Linked DNA regions of Homo sapiens: region 2 is linked to region 1. The links come from fine-mapping of genetic effects on gene expression. A gene starts in region 1. The other region holds a variant in brackets. All regions are shown on one strand. Distances are from middle to middle. Region 1 holds the start of COPG2IT1 (COPG2 imprinted transcript 1). Region 2 overlaps MEST (mesoderm specific transcript).

What was found. PIP is the estimated chance that this variant, and not a neighbour inherited with it, causes the effect.
Region 2: its variant is fine-mapped to the expression of COPG2IT1 in testis (GTEx, PIP above 0.99).

The regions. Positions count from the first base shown.
Region 1 is chr7:130,535,729-130,546,604 of GRCh38, reverse strand. It overlaps COPG2IT1 (COPG2 imprinted transcript 1), which reads right to left and starts at 3,152. Exons shown (of 1, transcript NR_024086.2): 1 at 1-3,152. All of the region lies in intron 20 of COPG2 (coat protein complex I subunit gamma 2), which reads left to right.
Region 2 is chr7:130,504,586-130,515,461 of GRCh38, reverse strand. MEST (mesoderm specific transcript) reads right to left here. Exons shown (of 12, transcript NM_002402.4): 12 at 8,997-10,523. The coding sequence ends at 10,406. It overlaps COPG2 (coat protein complex I subunit gamma 2), which reads left to right. Exons shown (of 24, transcript NM_012133.6): 21 at 6,803-6,900; 22 at 7,639-7,777; 23 at 8,090-8,188; 24 at 8,656-9,224. The coding sequence ends at 8,786. Among named protein-coding and RNA genes, the nearest start is that of MIR335, 14 kb to the right of the region's middle. RefSeq lists an enhancer at 10,212-10,876. The variant A/C (reference allele first, on the strand shown) is at 6,319.

The DNA of each region.
Region 1 (10,876 bases):
GTGTCTGAATCCCAGATTGTTCCCTCTGGCCCTGGGTGGAACTCTACTTCTATTCTTTAGCCACCCTGGATCCATAACCCCCTGAGTAGGAAGGCACTTTCCTATCTGGCCTCCAATATTTCTCCTTTGAGCTCGAGGCTATCTGGCTTTAACCTTTAATTACCTCCTTTATCCCTTTGTGAGGTTTCTCTAGTTCCATTTCCTTGTAACTTCGCTTTCTCTCCTGGTCTGTTTTTCTCTCCAGTTAGATTTGTCTGAAATATGTCCACTAGCCAGTAATTAAGCTGGCTGTACTCTTAAGTAAAGCTAGTTTTATTTACCTTTTTCTAAACTAGTATTTGGGCCCAATCTTAATGTAGTCCTGTGGTTTCTACCATTGTCTGGAGAGACTCTGCACTTCATCAGTTCTTTTCCAGTAGCCATCCCTCCATGTTTCAAAATTCCTCCTGCTATTCTACCTCTCACCAATGTCCTGTTTTTTAAGGGATGCTATTACTTTGCCACTTAATTTCAGAGGGAAGTGAAATGCTGAACCCATTGAAGAATCAATCCCTTGCCAATTGAGAATACTAGCTCTTCCCACTTCCCCAGGTTCATTTTGCTAACTAATAACTCAGGTGGCTCACACCCCAGAAAGTATTCTTAACGGAATCTAAGAAGTATAATTTTATAATACCAAAATACACAAAACAACAATATAGAAATTACATATAGTATAGGAAAAAACCAACAACAACAACAAAACATTTCCACCAAGAGAGGAAAAAGAGGAGAGGTTTTCTTGCCCCTCTTCACTAAGGAGTTTTAAAACATAGATCTTACAAATTAGCCCAGAGATTTCAACATTTGGTCTGCTGGCTATGGACTCTTTTGCTTGATGGTTTGTTTGATTTTTGTTTATAAAAGTTTGGCATTTAGGGAATTGTTTAAAGTTTTGTTAGTAGTAAGTTTATATTTGACCCATCATATACCTACTTAAAAAACAAACTCCTTTCTATTTAGTTTTTTGTCAGAATTCTCAAATTTTTAATCCATGGCCAATCTAAAGTCTATGCTGTGCAATGGAAGAAGTGAAATACCAGGGCATAGATGGTAATAGGTATCTTTCACCCATTCCTTCCTTTTTGCATTTTCCCATCACAGATATTCCAAATTTTACCTGTCACCTCAAGGTCTTAAACATCAATATGTCTCATTTCAGAAAAATAATATTTTTCCTTATAATCGCAGTGAAAAAACAGAAATTCTTGGTTTGATTTCCTTCAACTTGAAAACAGTATAGCATAATAGAAGGGAATATGGGTTTGATAGACAGATGAGGATTTGAATGCTGGCCCTGCTACATACTGACTGTGTAATCGTGGACAAATTATTTGATCTCTTAGGACTGTTATAGGATGAAATGAAATGAAATGAAATGAAATGAAATGAAATAATAGGTAAGTTGCTTCACATGGTGCCAGACACATAGAACCTTTTGGTGTTTAATTCTAGAATTATCCACTTTCTTCCTTTATCCTCTCTAAAATCAAGTCTTCCAGAGTTCAAAAGACACATACCCTCTAATCTCTTCCAGAAAGTTGTTCCATCAATTATTCCTTTCTTTGATCTATCTTTAATCTTTCCTACTCCCCTTTACTTTATAAATGTATAAAAATCTACCCTATCTGAAAAAATTTGCTTTAACCCAACATCAATATATTACCATAACACCTTCTCGCAAAGGTTGGGCAATTTCTTGAAAGACTATGGACATCCTAAGTCTCTATGTAACTAGTCCTACTTATTATCTTTCGTCCTCCCAGAATTTGTCCTTTACCTAAAAAGTTTTAGAAAAGCCTTTAAGGCAACATTCCTTCTAAGCATTCATTCTCTTTCAGCAGCTCTGTTTCCCCTGAATATTTATTGCACCCGTAACAATATATATTATATACACAACATTCTACCAATTATTCCCCATGTTTGACCTTTTTAATGCAACTACCAACTTAACTTTTTATTCCACTACCTATTCAAAACCATTCTAATCTTTATATTGCTTTTATTTATCAGGTTTTATTGCATCATATTTCTTGTTATCTGGAACCATTTCAACAAATATTAATAACTTATTTTAAAACAGTCTTTAATAGAAAATATTCATACTAAGATCAGCTGTAACAGTACATGTATGTGAGTTTATTTTCTCTGATTTTCATTGGAAATATTGCCTGCCATATAATGATTCATAATTATTTTAATTTCTTGACTTTCTGCCTACACTTCCTTAAAGTGCCATCTTAAGCTACTGTAGTTGCCCTTCCATTATTTTTTGTTCAGTATTAACCATATTAACTTGGCATTCTGTACTAAAAACACAACTTCAGTTAAGTAAGATTTGCCTCAGAGTTTTTTACTTTAACTCACCTCCACTCACCCACTGGGATCCATATTATTAGGCTCAGTGAAGCTTTGCATTCTTCTAAGCCAAGCATTTAATCTGAATTTTAACTCAAATACTAAAAAAAGCAGTATTGGTAGAACATTTGATTCAGCCACCCTTTCCCCTTCCTTTATCACTAGAATTTGCTTCAGTCTGGCTTTAAAATCAATATTCCTGCAGTCTAACCCATTGAAAGATCTGCCAGGATTCTCAGTCTGAGATTTCCTTATTTACCCACTCATTTGTCACATACCCAGTCTGCCATTCCTCAAACTCACTGAAATTTCCCTCATTTCCTTTCAAGCCATCTTTCTAACCTATTTGATACCCCTTTTCTACCCCATCATCTTCAATGTCTCTAATTTTTGTTGCTGACTTGACTTAAATGATCCTATCTCTACAGAATGCAACTTAATCATGGTGTACCCACTCATTTCTGCCTTTTGCCTTAGGGGAAAAACAAAACAAAACCCTGCTCTATTGGTAACGCCCAGTCTTTGTTCATCTGTCCTTGAAATTGATTCACAATGTGAATATGTATAAGCTTCCTCATGACCCACCTCCAGTGTTCAAAACACTTCCTTCCTGTTCTCTTGGTGTCCAACATACTTACCTGCATCCTTAGCTAGTAGAACTGACATTCTGAGGATTGCTGATGAAGCTCATCCTTCAGACTCCGCTTCATAAACCTATCTCTATATGGGACCGTTTATTCTCCTGACTCTAAGCATTCATCAAGTGTTTCCCTCAAGGAGCTTTAAGGAAGCCACCAAATTCCCTAATGACAAGTTCTTTCTATATAGTTTTCCTCTTTGCCATTATTCCATACTGTGGATCAAGGGGCAACAATACCCACCCTACCAACTCTGACATTCCTAAATCCCAAAGTGGTTTAAACTGTATACTGTCCCCTTAATTTCAATCTTGTTAAACAGAGTAATACTTCCTTCTCATTTTGGCTCTGCTAATTTTGTTGGAGACCACATTAAACACATAGTAACCTATGTCCAACCCCCACACTTGCAAATTTTACATTGTTAATTGTTTGCTTTCAAAATCCTGACCTTCAGTGATTGCCAACACTGCCTTCCATATCAGTTGGGGTTGCTTTACCATCACCCTCTATAAGGTTTCTTCTTTTTCTGTTTTCCTATTCAATGAAGTAGTTACCATGACAGGTAAAGTGTTGTTACCCCACTCGCTTGTCGTCTAGGATTTAACTTCTATTCCCTAAAATGCTCCTACACTCAGCCATGATACCGAACATACCACTGACTTGCCCCTGAGATTTGCCAGTGCCCCCACTTTGGGAACTCTGCATTCCACCTTCCCCTATTCCATGTCAGCCCTTTTACTGATGCTAAGCCCTGCACAAATTCATAAGGTTATCTCCCCTCCTACCTGCCTCCTGTCCCTTCTTTTACCATAAACTTCCGTCATCAAATTTACATCCCAATAACTGCCTTAGAATGGCTGCCAGACTCTCTCATTCCATGTGGTATGCCAGTGTAAATTTGCACAGTCTACACACAGTGTTGCCTCCCACTGTCATCTTCCAGAAACTCCTTTTCATCTTCAACATCCAGTCCTGCATGCCCTGCCACCTCCAAGTCAATCCACAGACTCAGGAATCTGTCCTGAACTCTGACCCCTTCCTGCCCTGCCCCCCACTGATGACACCACTGCCAGCTTCCATGTCCTCAACCTGCTGTACTGAGTCCATCTGCTGTCTCAGTTCACCCCTAACCGTCCTGTATTCTCAGTTCTGCCTCTAAGGAACAGTGGTTTCCTCTCTCTGTTGTGTCCTCTGGCCTTCCATCGTCTCGCCATGCCCTTTATTGACACACGGTCCTCAATGTTTCCAAGGTGCCAACACCTCTACACCCTGTTTCTGTGGCCTCATCTCACCTCTCCTTCATTCCTTCCGTGTCTTACCCACACCATGCTTTCTCCTCCATGACCTGCATCAAACACTTCACCCCTTTGGGGCAAAAAGGAGGATTCTCTACGTTCACACCCACACTCTTGCTCTTGGCATGCCTCCCTTGCTGCAGTACATTCCCTGATCCTCTCAACAAGCTCACCTCCGTAAGCTGCTGGCCTCCATAACCTGCTCCAACTCATTCTTCTTGCCCATTGGGGAACACCTCTCCTCTGTCCTGCTCTCCCATATGCTGCAAACTCACCCTCTGCTCTCCCAGCTCCCAGCTCCTGGGCCCAGGTTGGTCGTTTCTCCTGCTTTCCTCCTCTACTGCATAGCACGGTACTGTCCCACCTGCACCATGCTGCGTTCTCTCAGCACCACCTGCGATTCTGCCACTGGCCTAATTCGTGTTCTCAGGTGTGTCCTCCCTTCTTGACCTGGCCCCGCACCCACTGCTCCACCAGATGCAGTCCTCTCTGTGTCACACGTACTGCACTGAATCCACACGCTCTGCTGTCCAAGCTCACGTCCCAGTGGCCCAGGCTATGAGTCCTTTCCAGGGCCCCACAACCCTGACTCCCCTAAACCTTCCTGATTCTTTTCTCATCCTTTCTTTCACACTGTGTAAAAACACTCTGGGGAACATCTGCCTCTGAATCTCCTACCTTGTTCCTATCACCATAGCAATTTTGTCTTTGTCACTCACTCGTGTCTCGCTCTCTGCCCGTCCTCATCTCCCACCCCATACACACCCAGTCTCAACCTGACTCTCCTGCCCTGCCTGAGACTCAGCTCCTCTGCTCCTCCTGGGTGCTGCTGTCAGTCCCACCCTCCTCCCACCTCCTCCCTCCTTAAGGCCCGTGTCTTCAAGACGCTCTCCTTCCACACTGTCTCCATTTCCCTTTGCACCTTCCCTCCCCGTGACAACAGATCCCCTGCTCTCTGCTCTCACCCGCACAGCCCACTTCCTCTGTGTCACTAGGCCCTTCTCTAGGCCTCACTCCTCCACCTTGAGTCTGGGACCGAGGCATTGGAAAACCCAGTTCCACCACCAGGGTACCCGGTGCCTTTTCGGCTACATCCATCTGCTCGCTGTCATCTTTGTCCTGATCTGTCGGGAACTGTGTTCCCACACCTGACAGTCTTGACCCTGATGCCTCCATCAGCCCCACTGCACGTGCGTCTTCCCCTCACACTCCACGTGTCTGCCCGGCTCTCCATCCTCCCGCATCCACCAGTGATTCTCACCCGAGAATGCAGGACCCCAAGGCGGCCTATCAGAAGCATCTTTTGGGCTTGGTTTCTTCTTTTGCTATTGTCTATGTTCCTTTTAGAGACTGCTATTTTTTTTCCCTTACTTTTACTGAGCTGAACACTGCTCACCCCTCAGATGATTGGATAGCCCTGCCTGGGGGTCCATGTCCAGAGACCTCCCTCCACGTGAAATTCACCCCCTACCCCAGATAAGAATCACTGCTATGGATGGCCACCTTGACTCCCTGACATTACTCCCTCATTTCACACCTAGACCATTCTAGTGCTTGCCATAGGTGGCATTCTAGTACTTGCCATTTAACTTCCCACTTAACACATCTCATCTTTTGTCTGCCCACCCCCATTAGGCCTGGAACTCTCTGCTTGGAACCACTTCATTCCTTCCCTATTTGCCCTTTAACACACCTCTGACCCCAAACACCAGTCTGCATTGGAAACTTGTTCTTTTAATGCCTCCCCACCCGATACGTCTTGTCCTCCCACCTGATAGGACTCTTAGGCCCTGTGTCAGTATCTTCGGCCTCAACCTGTTTCTTATGGGTGCTTACTATTGTCAGTTTTCCTTAATCCCCACCCCTTTTTTCAGATCCCTTACAAGATCGGCCTGCAGAAACTTCCCCCTTTGTTTCCCGAGTTCTCAGTTGTTTCCTAAAAACCAGCCATTTACCTTGACCTTTCGACCTACAAGAAACCACTTTCATTTACTTCTTTCGGTGGATTTAGACGGCTACCCCAGCCTGTATTCATCACCTGCAACATTAGATATGTAACCCACCAGCTCAGTTAAATAAGAAAGTTTCCTCCAACCCAGAACTTGGCTCGATTCTCCCCATCTGGTTCCCTACCTCCTCTCCCACTCACACCCCACTGCTCCCAATCCTTCCCTCCTTTCCAACCCAGTCAGTCCCAACCCAAATCCCATCCCAAACCCCATCCCCTTCACCCAACCCACCCTTCCCCACTGCATCCATAGCAAAGACCCTGGCCCAAGATTCACACTTCTGCAACAAAGTTCAAGGCTTTAAGAGCAGCCATTCCTTCCTGCCCATTGCTGTCCACCCCTTTCACACTTTCCCTTCCCCTGCCGAACCTTGCAGGCTGCCCTGAGCACTCCACATTCCTTTGTTCCTACTCTGGGACCTCCCCGTTCACCTCGCTCCAACTATGGCTGTCCTGCCTGTGGCTGTCCTGCCCAGCTCCCTTCCACCATGCTTTCTGCCCTCCATCCTTCCCTGGGGGCCCCTCCACCCTGTCTGTCTTCTGTAGGTGACTCCCCTGTTGGCGCTGCCTCATCGTCCCACTTCCACATTCTTTCTTGAAGCCTTTCCCCTTGCATCCACATTTCTTCTCTTTGCTTCCTTGGCCAAGGGAAGGTACCTGCCTGTCTGTGGCCAGTATTTCTCTCAGCCACCCAGGGCCTGTCGCTTCATCTGACTCAGTCATCTCTTCTCCATAGGGATGTGCTCACTACTTTGACCTGCTTTCACCGCTCAAACTTTTCCATCCTCTCTCTATCCCACCTTCTCTTCAAGAACTGTTTTCTGTTGCTCCTCCAGATCTTCCACTGATTGAGGCCAGTGCCTTCCCTTAGGCTGCCTTTTCCTTCCCCTCTTCCACTCCAGCCTTGTTTCCTCTTTTCTCTTTCTGTTCCATGAAGTGAGTTCCTACAAAACTCTACAGCCAGTCCCGCCACTTCCTCCTCTTCCTCCTTTCTTCATCTCCATTATTTCCATTTACCTTGGATAGGGTCCCAGTGAGCCCATGCACCCCTGCCCATCACACCTGATCTTGCAGTACCCATTGAAGCTATCTGGATCCACCATTTCTTCTTTCCCTCTTGGCCACACTACCTTTACTATACCCTTGTTTAGAATTTAAGACCTTCTTCTTACACAGGTCCTGCCATCCATCCTGTTCTGCCTTTCCTCCTCTCTGCCCTCTGGAAAAAGTTTCCAAAAATGAAGCCCCCGTATCAGCACCCAAACCTTCATCCTATCCAAACTCTGGGCATGCCCACTGTGCCCATTTACTACTGACCTAATCTCCCACTAAATCTAAGATGCTACCTGTGTTTGAAGGCCCCCGCTTCCTACTTCACTGCACCTCTGTAGTGAAGTGTGGTGTAGTGCATATTTTCAGTTGCAAGCTACACCTCCATCCTCTCAGGCTCCCTTGACAACAGAGGTTCAGACTCAGTGGTCACTAGGAATTGTCTTCTCTCCATTAGTTCCCTCTAACACTTGCAAGTATCTTTCTGCCCACATACTAGACTCAAAACACATGAGTCCATCCCCTCCCAGGCCCCCAGCCCCCAAGGTTTACCTGCCAGTACGTTCCATGCAGGTGCTGTCTGAATGTGCAGTGATGCCCCATTTCCTCCATTTACCCTGAGTGACTTAGGCACCTTCCCCCTACTTTCCTTTCCTAAGGATCCACTTCTGAAAAGCCTGGGATTTTGCCTCCCTACCGTAATCCTATGGGTTGGCCTTGATAAGAAGCATGATACCAACTTCCCTGAGATCTGATAAAACCCCATTTGGGGAACTCTGATTTCCTCCTTCCCCTTTTCTGCATCGGACCCTGTACGGACACTAAGCTCCCCACAACTTCATGATGTTCTTTCCCCTCCTGCACCACAAATCTCTTTCTTTTCCCATCAACTTCCCTGACCCCACTCACATCACACCACCTCCATGTGGCTGCTCCACTCCAATGTCTCACTTTTTCCACACAAGGTTCACATTTAATTCCTGCACCACTGTTTCCTCCCACTTTCATCTTCCAGACATGCTCCACCTCCTCTTCAACATCCAGTCCTGCGTGCCCTGTCTCCGCCAGGTCAATCCACAGACTCAGGAATCTTTCCTGAACTCTGACCCCTTCCTGCCCTGCCCCCACTGATGACACCACTGCCAGCTTCCATGTCCTCAACTTGCTGTACTGAGTCCATCTGCTGTCTCAGTTCACCCCTAACCGTCCTGTATTCTCAGTTCTGCCTCTAAGGAACAGTGGTTTCCTCTCTCTGTTGTGTCCTCTGGCCTTTCATCGTCTCGCCATGCCCTTTATTGACACACGGTCCTCAATGTTTCCAAGGTGCCAACACCTCTACACCCTGTTTCTGTGGCCTCATCTCACCTCTCCTTCATTCCTTCCGTGTCTTACCCACACCATGCTTTCTCCTCCATGACCTGCATCAAACACTTCGCCCCTTTTGGGCAAAAAGGAGGATTCTCTACGTTCACACCCACACTCTTGCTCTTGGCATGCCTCCCTTGCTGCAGTACATTCCCTGATCCTCTCAACAAGCTCACCTCTGTAAGCTGCTGGCCTCCATAACCTGCTCCAACTCATTCTTCTTGCCCATTGGGGAACACCTCTCCTCTGTCCTGCTCTCCCATATGCTGCAAACTCACCCTCTGCTCTCCCAGCTCCCAGCTCCTGGGCCCAGGTTGGTCGTTTCTCCTGCTTTCCTCCTCTACTGCATAGCACGGTACTGTCCCACCTGCACCATGCTGCGTTCTCTCAGCACCACCTGCGATTCTGCCACTGGCCTAATTCGTGTTCTCAGGTGTGTCCTCCCTTCTTGACCTGGCCCCGCACCCACTGCTCCACCAGATGCAGTCCTCTCTGTGTCACACGTACTGCACTGAATCCACACGCTCTGCTGTCCAAGCTCACGTCCCAGTGGCCCAGGCTATGAGTCCTTTCCAGGGCCCCACAACCCTGACTCCCCTAAACCTTCCTGATTCTTTTCTCATCCTTTCTTTCACACTGTGGAAAAACACTCTGGGGAGCCTCTGCCTCTGAATCTCCTACCTTCTTCCTGTCACCAGAGTAGTTTTGTCTTTGTCACTCATTCGTGTCCCACTTTCTGCCCATCCTCGTCCCCCCGGTACGAATGCACCCAGTCTCAACCTGACTCTCCTGCCCTGCCTGAGACCCAGCTCCTCTGCTCCTCCTGGGTGCTCCTGTCAGTCCCACCCTCCTCCCACCTCCTCCCTCCTCCTTAAGGCCCATGTCTTCAAGACGCTCTCCTTCCACACTGTCTCCATTTCCCTTTGCACCTTCCCTCCCCGTGACAACAGATCCCCTGCTCTCTGCTCTCACCCGCACAGCCCACTTCCTCTGTGTCACTGGGCCCCTATCTTGGCCTCACTCCTCCACCTGAGTCCTCGAGTCTCGGACCGAGGCGCTGGAAATCCCAGCTCCACCACCATGGTCCCGGTGCCTTTTCGGCTACATCCATTTGCTCGCTGTCATCCTTGTCCTGGTCTGTCGGGAACTGTGTTCCCACACCTGACAGTCTTGACCCTGATGCCTCCATCAGCCCCGCTGCACGTGCATCTTCCCCTCACATTGTACATGTCTGTCCGGCTCTCCATCCTCCCGCGTCCACCAGTGATTCTCACCCGAGGATGCAGGACCCCGAGGAAGCCTATCAGAAGCATCTTTTGGGCTGGGTTTCTTCTTTTGCTGTTATCTGTGTTCCTTTTAGAGATTGTTTTTTTCCCTTACTTTTTCTGAGCTGAACACTGCTCACCCCTCTGATGATTGGATAGGCCTGCCTGGGGGTCCATGTCCCCAGCCCTCCCTCGGGTGAAACCCACCCCTCAACCCCAGATAAGAATCACTGCTGTGGACGGCCACCTTGACTCCCTGGCCTTTACTCTCCTATTTCTAGCATTTAGTATTTTGGTATTTCCAGGTACACTTCCTACTCATAAGACCAGCATTTCCCTCCCCCTGCCCAACAGTCCTGGCACTCTCCACTTGGAACCACCTCATTGTCTGCCCCATTTACCCCTTAACACACATCGTGCCCAAAAGCCCAGTCTGCATGAGAGAGTTGCGCTTCTGACACCTCCACACCCCACCCTTTATGCCCTGACCCATCTAATATGACTCCCAGGCACTCAGTTAATACCTTTGGCCTCAATCTAATTTTCGTAGGCCCTTACTACTGACATTTTTCCTTCATCATCCCTCCTCTTTTCATATCACTGACCAGGTGCCCCCAGAGAGACTTCCCATTTGGTGGTCATCATCCTGTTTGTTTCCCAGAAACCAGCCCTTTACCTTAACCTTTTACCCTTCCTGAGCTACTCTGTTTTTTCTTCTTTTGCCGGACTCAGATGTCTTCTCTAGCCTGTATTCATCAACCTCAACACTCAACATGTAATTGTCCACCAGCTCAGATGAATGAGATGGTGTTCTCAATGCCTACAGCTTGGCCCACTTCACCCCACCCCAACCCC
Region 2 (10,876 bases), 31 kb after region 1:
TAGTGGGAGGTGACTGGGTCATGAGGCCAGTTTCTCATAAATGGTTTAGCACCATCCCCTTGGTGCTGTTCTTGTGATAGAGTTCTTACACGACCTGACTGTTTTCAGTGTGTGGTACCTCCTCCCACTCTCTATCTTTCTCCTGTGAAGTGCTGGCTCCCCACCATTCACCTGCCGCCATGATTGTAAGTTTCCTGAGGCTTCCTCAGCCATGCTTCCTGTACAGCCTGTGGAACCTTGAGCCAATTAGACTTCTTTTCTTTATAAGTTACCCAGTCCCAGGTATTTCTTTATAGCAATGTGAGAACAGATTAATGCACCCTGAGTTTCTGACTGACTAGGTCTGGGGGAGGGGAAAAGAATTCATATTTCTAACAGATTCCTAGATAGTGCCATGTAACACATTCTAAGAAGCATTGCTCTTCAACTTCTCCCTCAACCAAGCCCTTTAATTAAAAATCTCCCACTAAGGCATCAAGAGCGAGTCTACTGACTCATTCCTATTCAGGTCTTTCCTTCTCTCCCATATACTAGTCACTGCAATCTGGCCTTACACCCACTGAATTTGGCCAGTTGGGCCCATTCTGAGATCTGGCAGGATTCTCCAGGCATCTTTATGGCGCTGTGGTCTTTCTTATTACCACGCCACCTTTTCAGAATCATTATCTAGTTTATTTAATGCTCCCCTTAGCTTTAACCCCTCTTCATGTCTTTTGGCCCAAATATGGGACTGTCTCTCCAGTCAGTCCTGCCATTCTTCAAATGACCTTTTCATCTGGAGTCAACTTTAATGTTTTCTCCTATTCCTTTTCTCCTTGTTACCTATCTTGCCCTAAAGATGTACGCTACCTTATCTTCAGCCTCCCTTCTTTTAGCTGCTGTCCATATTTCATTCAGATGGACTCTGTCTCCTCCTGAATGGCACTTCCTAGCCAAATTCTCTCTAGTGTCTGTCTCTCATCTGTAGAAAATCTTCACATGACAGAGTAACTTCTAAGAGTAACTTTAATACCGCACTTACATGATATTCATTTGTTTCTCCCCTTTGGTGATTTGCCCTCCCTTAATTATATAGAGTAAAATTTCATCTACCATCTGTACCTGGAAACAAAGAAGTTTCACCCTTGAGATGGGTTTCCAACATGATCTCCAGCCACTCCTCTTCCAATATTAGTCATCCATTCTACAAACTACTCAAAGATCTATCCTGGTGTCTTTAAGTGCTGCCCTATTAGGGCTCATCTTAATCCATCTCCTTCTAATCCTTCTCATTAAACTTCTCACAAAAGCTTCGCATTACTTTTCAAGCACTTGTTCTTCTTCCATTGTATCTACTGCTTTTCAAAGTCTGCAATTAAGAGCCAACATTTGACTGAATAAACCCACATTTTTTAAGGGTTTACAAGATTTCCCATTCTGGGAAACACTTTCCTCATTTTACCTGTCCATGCCACTCCACCTACGCTTACCTACTCTTTGTATAGTTCTCCCTTTACACAGTTTCCAGTCTCTCCTTATTTAATCTTACACTTATGGGGCCGTATCCCTCCAGTCAATACCTGCCAATCTTCAAATGACTCCGTCTCTTCTGCAGGCTCTTCCACTATTTTCCCCAGTTGACCCTAGTAGAACAACTGTTAGTCACTTGTTTTTTCAGCTATCATCTTGTGTATCATTCTCATGAATTTAGTCTTTTCTTCCTCGTCACCTCCACACTACTCTGAAAACACTTGCACTTTCAGTTCATTCCAGACCTTCATAGGGTTCCTGCCACTGCCTATGGCAAGAATCCATTCCATTTAAACTCCTTGACCTTTCACTCTATTGGTCACACTTGTTGCTTCAAACATCATTCAAGCAAAGATTCCCAGATGGCACTTCCTCATGACACCAGTTCTTATTTATCTACTTACTCTTTGTATTCTCTTTCCTTCTTTGGTTGTAACCCAGCTTAACTCACATCTCTCTACTGCATATGCAGCTCTGCCATCTTCTGGTGTTCCTCATTCTGGCCCTCTTTAATGCCCTTCCCTACCCATACATATATATGTATATGTGTATATATATATATACACACACACACACATATATATATATATATACACACACACACACACACATATATATATATATATATATATATATATATATATTTTTTTTTTTTTTTTTTTAGACAGAATTATTTCACTCTTGTCACCCAGGCTGGAGTGCAGTGTGGCCTGATCTCGGCTCACTGCATCCTCCACCTCCCGGGCTCAAGTGATTCTACTGCCTCAGCCTCCCAAGTAGCTGGGATCACAGGCACCTGCCACCACGCCCAGCTACTTTTTGCATTTTTAGTAGAGATGGGGTTTCACCATGTTGGCGAGGCTGGTATCAAACTCCTGACCTCAAATGATCCACCTGTCTCAGTCCCCTGAAGTGCTGGGATTACAGGCATGAGCCACCGTGCCCAGCCCCTACCCACACTTTATATTCCACACTCCAGCCTAAATCCTACATCTTTTCATCTTTTAGCTTCCAGCCTCCATCTTCTCTTTCTCTTCCCCTGTGATATTTTCATTCATGTTTCCCTAGGAAATGTCTGTCACTTTTAGCCAATCCTCACATAGCAGAGTAACTTCTAGGCAACTTCAGTGGAACACTGTGCAATAGTCTACGATATCTTAACTGTCAGTCATCCTTTCACTTGCCATCTCTCTCTTTTTTCTTTTTTTGAGACGGAAACTCACTCTGTCACCCAGGTTAGAGTGCAGTGGCGTGATTTTGGCTCACTGAAACCTCCAGGATTACAGGCATGTGCCACTACGCCCAGCTAATTTTTGTATTTTTACAAAAATTTTTAGTAGAGACGGGGTTTCACCATCTTGGCCAGGCTGGTCTCAAACTCCTGACCTCAAGTGATCTGCCAGCCTCAGCCTCCCAAAATGCTGGAATTACAAGTGTGAGCCACTGCACCCGGCCTTACCATCTCTACAGAAATAGATATAGACTTTTTTACTTCACTCTTCATAATCACCCATTCCCCATCTAGTAGCAATAATCCATTCTCTGGACAAACTACATGTTCACACTCTCTTAATAAATCAAGCCTAATATTTCTAAAGTTGCCATCTATAGCTTTTTTGTTGTTTTTTGTTTTTTTTTTTTAGATGGAGTTTTGCTCTTGTTGCCCAGGCTGGAGTGCAATGGGGCTTGGCTCATGTTAAATTGTCAGAGTTGTATATTAACAAGGAGAGTTGTGTATTAACAAGGAGAGTTAACAAGGCTCACCAACTCGGCTTACCACAACCTCTGCCTCCTGGGTTCAAGTGATTCTCCTACCTCAGCCTCCCAAGTAGCTGGGATTACAAGCATGGGCCACCACGCCCGGCTAATTTTGTATTTTTTTTTTTTTTTTTTTTTTTTTAGAAGACACAGTGTTTCACCATGTTGGCCAGGCTAGTCTTGAACTCCCAACCTCAGGTGATCCACCTGCCTCAGCCTCCCAAAGTGCTGGGATTACAGGCGTGAGCCACTGCACCCGGCCCATCTATAGCTTTTTATCAGCATTCATCAGTTTATAACTTTCCTATCAAGCAAGTCCTTTAATTAGCCATTCCCTCAAAAGCTTTAAGAGCTAGTCTGCTGCTGCCTCCTACTGAATTCCTTGCTCCTTAACCCTTTCTGTGTATTTCCCATGCAGCCGACCATTTAGACCTAGACAGGATACCCCATTCTAAATCTTTATTCCACACCTGCTCTGCCAGTAGGCCCTTCCTTATGTAATATTTTCTTTCCTTTGCTTCCAGTCTCTTATTTCATACTCTCTTATGACTTTTGGCCCAGCAATGCTGTCTTACCTTCCTGTTGATGTGTGTCATTCCTTAGTGACCAACTCCTTTTCATCTGAGGACAACTCTAATGTTGCTTTCCAGTACCATTCCTCCTTCCCTTTCTGAATTTGTCCTAGAGAAAAACTCCCTCCCACCATTTGTACAGCATTCCCACAGACTCAACACGATTTTCCAGGTAGGTGTGTATTGCTTATTTTGGCACTCACTGCCCAGCTTTCCTCGATGTCCTACACACTATGCTGCACCCATTGCTTCTCAGTTCAGTCCAGACCTGCATAGACTGCTGCAGTTAGCCTGTACAGATCCATCTCTTTTGCCTTCTTTCTAATCTTTTGCCCTAGTGACATACCCTTTTCTTTAATTATTATTCTAACAAAGCTTTCTGGAAATACCTCATAAGTGTCTCTTACTTTGTCATGGTCTCCCCCAGGTGGTTGAGACCTGGCAGCTCCCTCCCACCTTTCCCACTCTGCCCTTTGCCACACTGCATTTTCTGTACCCTGGCCCAACTCACATGTCCCTCTCCTGTCTTAGCTGCCAGCATCTATCTTTTCTCTAATTCGCTGGGTTCTTTTCATACAAATCTCCTTAGTGGTTGACTCTCATTTTCAGTGAATCCTCACAAGACAAGCTTAATTTCAGAGAACAGTTTTAATGCAGATCTTCAGGGCATTCTTTCCTGATTCTCTTTGGTATTTGCCTTGCTTTGTCTGTGTAACTCTCATATTTACATTATGGCAGTGCATTCAGTATTTTCTTGCCATGGAAAGGCCCCCGCATCTTGCCTCCTCGCCCCATTTCGTCATCCTCTCCAGCAGCTTCGACAGATTACTGCCTAGACTTCCTTAGATCCCTGTAACCTCTCATTGTATCAATCAAACCATTTAAGTAAAAAAATTCCCACTAAGGTTTCAGGAACATTATCTCTACTAACACCATTCCTATTTACTTCCTTAATCTCTTTCTCTGTATCAGGTCCTTATATGTAAGTGTCTTCTGTCTTTACCTCCACATAAAACTCAGCCCCTGTGCCCAGTCTGTGATCTGCCTTCATACCTGATGTTGTCTCTTTGTCCTCCTCATTTGCTGTAGCCTCTCTGCTTAATTGGAACCACACTGGGTTGCTATAATTAATGTCTCTCCTGACTCTTCATTCTAACTTGATCATGACCTTTTCCCCTACCATATTCTGTATCTCTTTCATGGTTTAAAAAAAATGCCTCACCTGACCTGTTCTGGCCTTGTGTTAACTTTCACTTCTTTCCCCTTCTCTCTGAAGAAAATCCTATCCTAATTAAACCACAGTCGTTCTTTTCTCAACCCCTAATGGCATTGAAATTGATTCTGCAGGCTTGATAGGTTCATTCTTTCCTATATGGGAAAACCCACTGCCATCGTCTGTTTTCAGCATATTCTGTTGAATCCATCTGCTCTCTGAATTCAGACCCATTCTTCATAGTCCCCACCAGTGGCTTAAATTAGGCACCTTATCTAGCTTATCTCTAACCTTTCAATCTCTTGACTGCCTCAGCTCACCAGAGCCTGTTGGAAAATCATTTGAAATACAAGGTATTTTACAATTTATTCCTAAACAAATTATCTTCTCAGCACCTAGGCATTAGCATGCCTCTTACTGTTTCCAGCTGCCCGGTGGACTTTCTGGCCTCTTTCCTTTTGCCTGTTTGTACATCTTCCTCTGCTTGCCAAAGCTCTTTTGCATCTTTTGAGAGCCAGTTAAACTATTATATCGTTTCACATTTTTTACAGTTTTCCCAGGCTATTTGTTAATCCCGCACCCTCACATGGCACTCTCTTAAAACTTAAAGGATCTATGGCATTGAGTTGTAAAGTCATAGATAGATCACACACACACACAGCCCACACACTTATTTAACTCCTAGACAGCTCCTAGAGACAGAGATCATGTCTCAGTCATCTTTTTATCCAAGTGTCTGGCACATAAGCTTATACCTTTACGTGTAATGTCAACATGTATTGACAGTCACTACATGTGTGGATGGATGAATGGATGGAATTTAAAGTCAAGACTGAGCAGATGAAAGTCTTATTACCCAATCTGTCGTATATGGTCTTCACATCTGAGCCTGTTCTTTCCTCTCCTTGCCTATCCCCCAAATAACTTTTTAACTCTCCCAATATCTAATATTTTTTGTACCTATAAGCTTTTTCCAGACCATAGACAAGATCCTAAATGCCTTTTCTTCATCCCTGCTTGCTAAATCCCCTCCTTCAAACATTTCAGAAAATACTGTCTTTACTTTTTATAAAGACTTCACTTTCCAAAAATGTACCCCCACCTCCATTTCTTATTACTTAACACCACTTGTGTGAAAACATACAACTGCCCACTTGCTTTTCCATTTAAGACACTGACTTTACCAATACTAGAAACTCATTACTGACCTACTCACTTTAGGCTGAAGGTTGACAGATAAAGCAAGTTCTCTCTGGTGATCTGTGG[A/C]CCCGCCATCAGTCCACAATCTAAAGATAGTATTGAGATGCTGATGAGATTGGTCAATGTTAATCTGATGATCTGTATGCTTTTTACCACAGGTTTTTTTTTTGTTTTTTTTTTTGGTCAGGTCCTACAGCAGTGGTTCTCAAAATATTTATTTTTCAACATTTAGGCCCCTTTGATAGGCATGGCAAAAAGCCCCCAAAAGTACCTCTCTGCTGCTTTCTTCATACCAATAGAGAAACAGTCTGCCCATGTTATCATTTCTGTACTGCTGTAACCCACAGCGTGGAATAGACTTTACATTCATGCTTTGTGAGACTGCCTTCCTGACCCGCTTGTAGGCTGCTTTTGAGAACCACTACCCCAGACAACAGGGCATGTGTGTTTAACTGGAAAATGTGGAACACAGTGCTGAGTACAGATGGAATGATGGAAACGTCTCCCTTGCACTCCCCACTGATGCAGGTTTGCCTCCCTTCTCCTCCAGTTGCAGGCTCCTTTAGCTGCACCATGAAGTTTACAGTCCGGGACTGTGACCCTAACACTGGAGTTCCAGATGAGGATGGGTATGATGATGAGTATGTGGTGAGTCTTCCCAGCATAGAGACTTTCTTTGACACCTTCACAACACTAAGTGACTTCTGCCTTGAGAGAACATTTTTCTAGGAGCATCTGACATAAACTTAAGGGATTTCTATTCTTCTGAAACAGATGACAAATTAGGAGGACCTGGACTAACCCTCCTCTGTAACTGGACAGCACCAGGCCAGAGAGAATTGAGATTTACCACTTCATCATTAAAACAAACTCACCCTTTTTTTTCTTTATAATAGGGATAATTAAGAGATGAAAATAATGACATGATTTTCATTGAGATCAGTTTTATTTAAAATGATTTGGGGAGGGGGTTGGTTTTGTTTTTTGGTTTTTTGTTTTTGCTTCAGCAGCTGTTAGTTTATAGCCAGATCATGGATTAAAAAGCCTTCACAGAATGGAGGGAAAACTTTTTTTAAAAAATATCAACCTCTTAGTGAATGATCAGAGGGTACCGTGTGCCCAGAACTCAGTGGTCAAGTGTGGGTGCAACATGACTACTCTGTACCTCAGGGCTACAGATGTTGATCTGAGGCTCTTGCCAGATGTTCTGTTTTCTTGCTTTCCTTTGCTAAGGGCTACAACATTAGATTTATCCAGACTACAGAACTTAAACTATTTTGGTGGTAGAGTTTTCTCTAGGCTCCGGAGGACCATATTGACTAGTTCCTTTATCTTTGCCCTATAACAGAAAGGACTTTTCTTTACTGACTGCTTATTACCCACTAGCTGGAAGATCTCGAAGTGACTGTGTCTGACCATATTCAGAAAGTACTGAAGCCTAACTTTGCTGCTGCTTGGGAAGAGGTGGGAGATACCTTTGAGAAAGAGGAAACCTTTGCCCTCAGTTCTACCAAAACCCTTGAAGGTGAGACCCATTTTGCTATCAGTATATTGCCTGATAACAGTATAACACCTAACAGGCATATTTGTTACTCCAGAAGAACTCCTTTAAAAAAAAAAAAACTTCATAAATCTCTTACTTAAAAGGCCAGCACCCTGTCTTCATCATCTAATTGATCAGCCATTTTCTAGTCCAGTAGTAGCCTCCCTCTACACATCACCAACAACCCCCTTCACCAACAAACCCTTCCACCCCAGCTCCCAGCATACACTGGTGCAGAGGGAGATCCCTGTGCTTTACTTTCCTAATACTGTCTCATACATCTTCTCAACACAGAGGCTGTCAACAATATCATCACATTTCTGGGCATGCAGCCATGTGAGAGGTCCGATAAAGTACCTGAGAACAAGAATTCCCATTCGCTCTATCTGGCAGGTAAGAAGCTTCCATCAGATTTTCCTTCCATTTTCTTGCAAAGCTTAATAATAGGATATAGATGGGCATCTTATGCCTTGCTGTTGTCCCATCATCCCATTATATGAGTAACAATTTGATACCCAGTCAAAATGAATAATTTGTTTTGCATGCTATTCTTGGTTATTCTTTTAAGATGTACATTTGGCCCAAAACAAATCTCTCCAACAGATACCAAGGCCACCACCAACATTCCTTTTGAGTACTCCAAATTGGTATTTTTGAATACCTTCTATGTACCTGGTTTCATGGGAATATAAAAATATATATATTTGGAATTTATGTTTGTTTAGGATTCAGTTTCCACAAGTCTCTGGAAAAGCTAAACTAAACTAATAGAAAGGAGATGCAGGGATAGCATGATAAATTTCATTATCCAGTGCTTGTTTTGGGTTCTTAATATGGTTTTCCTTACTTTTTTCTCTCAGGTATATTCAGAGGTGGCTATGATTTATTGGTGAGGTCCAGGCTGGCCTTAGCCGATGGAGTGACCATGCAGGTGACTGTCAGAAGTAAAGAGAGAACACCTGTAGATGTTATCTTAGCTTCTGTTGGATAAATGCTTACTGGACAAGAGGAAACTGATGCACACTACATGGTCAGTGGGCTTTTAGGCTAGTGGCATCAGTTTCCCAGAATCAGACTTTTGAAGATGAATGACTTTGGAGAAGCAAATTAAACATTTGGCCCTGAGCCAGCAGATCAAGCAAATGTCTATCTTTGCGCATGGGTTGTTTTTTTTTTTTTTTCTTTTTATTCTACTTGGTCAGCTTTGGGACGATAGTGCAGCTTTGGGTGATCTTGAAAATCAAATACTATCCTATACTCCAGCTGCTTAACTTCATTTTATTCTTTAATGTGTACCTGAAAGCTCCTGGCAATGCTGGAAAATTTTTATCCCAGAGGGGTGGGGGGGAGGGGGGAGGGGAAGCCAGAGTCCACTTTTGTCACAATTCATTTTTATTAATAGAAAATAAACACTTATTCCAGTTTCAAAGTTGTTATACTTGAAGTTGCTAATTTAAAAAAACGAATTTTAAATAATCACTTAATAATCCTGCTTTGACTAAGACAATGAAATGTGGCTTTAAAAAAAAAGTATTCAGCACCATTTGCTCATAGGTCTTTCAGAGTTTGTTCTTAAAGTTTCTGGAACTTTCCTGTCTGTAAAGTAACAGGAATTACTGAGCTACATTGGAAAGCCTCTCTGGGACAGGCAGTGGGGAGTTAAGCAGTCATCATAAAGGAATCAGTGTACATTCAGCATGGTGACTTGACTACACAACAATCCCTTCCCCTCTACTGTAGCTCAAGAGAGACATGCTTCTAACCACTGAGGTATGAGGAGTCTCAGACTGTTATTTGCTGTTAGAATTGGTCTTCCCAGCTAATAACAGTACATCTCTGGCACAGATGCTATTGGTCCTTAATGTCCTGTGATTTTAGGAAATAGTTTGGATTTAGTTCAATTTATTCAGAAACCAAATGTGTTTAATTAGCTTCACTACTCTGGCAGAGTAAGGGTATGCTGGTTTAGTATCTTTATAAAATATATATAATGTATAGGTAAATCATAGTCTTAAATCATACCTAAAATACTGTATCATTTAAACCAATATCTATTTTAACAAAATGTTTATAACTAAAAACAGCTGATGAAACACTAAATCCAAAGGTATGACAAAGAGGACTCAGCTCTGTGTTGCTTAAAGAACTTTTAAAAGGCATGTGCCCATAACGTCATTCGAGGAGAGGGAAGGAGCCCCCCTTCTCCTCCTCCTTACTATAGAATTCCTGTTGGGGGTGGGCCAGAAATTAGCACTTCTAAATATTTCAGAGAAGTCCAAAGTGTTAAAAAAAAGTCTTTTATGCAAAAGAACGTCTTTCTGCATCAGTGAATAGTAATGCTCATCAGAATTTCCTAATAGCACAAAAAACAAAGCCAAGTCTATACATTTGATCAGATATCAAAGTAATGGGAGGTGGACTATTATGTCAACCTTAGTCAGAGCTCCTGCTGGCTTCTTCCTATACACTGTTCACCAATTTGAGTAAAGTGGACTTTGTGAGAGAATTATGTTTGATGGCCAGGACCTCTTTTGGGCATTTCTTCCTAAGTGGAATACACAACACATAAGGGAGTAGGGGAGGTAATACAGGGAAGCTACTCTTTCCAGCTCAGAAGGAGTTGATGAAGCCCATATATGCATTCAAGAAGCCCATGGGATCCTCTAGCTGTGGATAGTGGCTAATGTGGTCATCCAGAATCGACACTGTGGACCGCGGCAGCGTTTTCCTAGTGGAAGAGAACAGCACGCAGGTGAACTTGAGGCTGGAGCGGGAGGGATGTAAGCCAGTGGGAAGCCCCAGTAAATGACCCTGTGGACACACCACACTGGAAGGAGCCACCAAAGAGCTTATTCACCTTCTACTCTGAAATTGTATCTTAGGCAGATAAACTTGCCAATTCCATTTATACAAACTAGTTTTTAAATGTTCATAATCCAACAAACAACAACTTGAAAATATAACACTTTTGCAACAATTGTCAAAGCAAGATGACTTTCAGCTCCTTAGAGAAGGATGAAGCATCAAACAAGTGGATCACACAGCAACTCACTGCCCAAGCAGAGATAACCAAGGATCTTC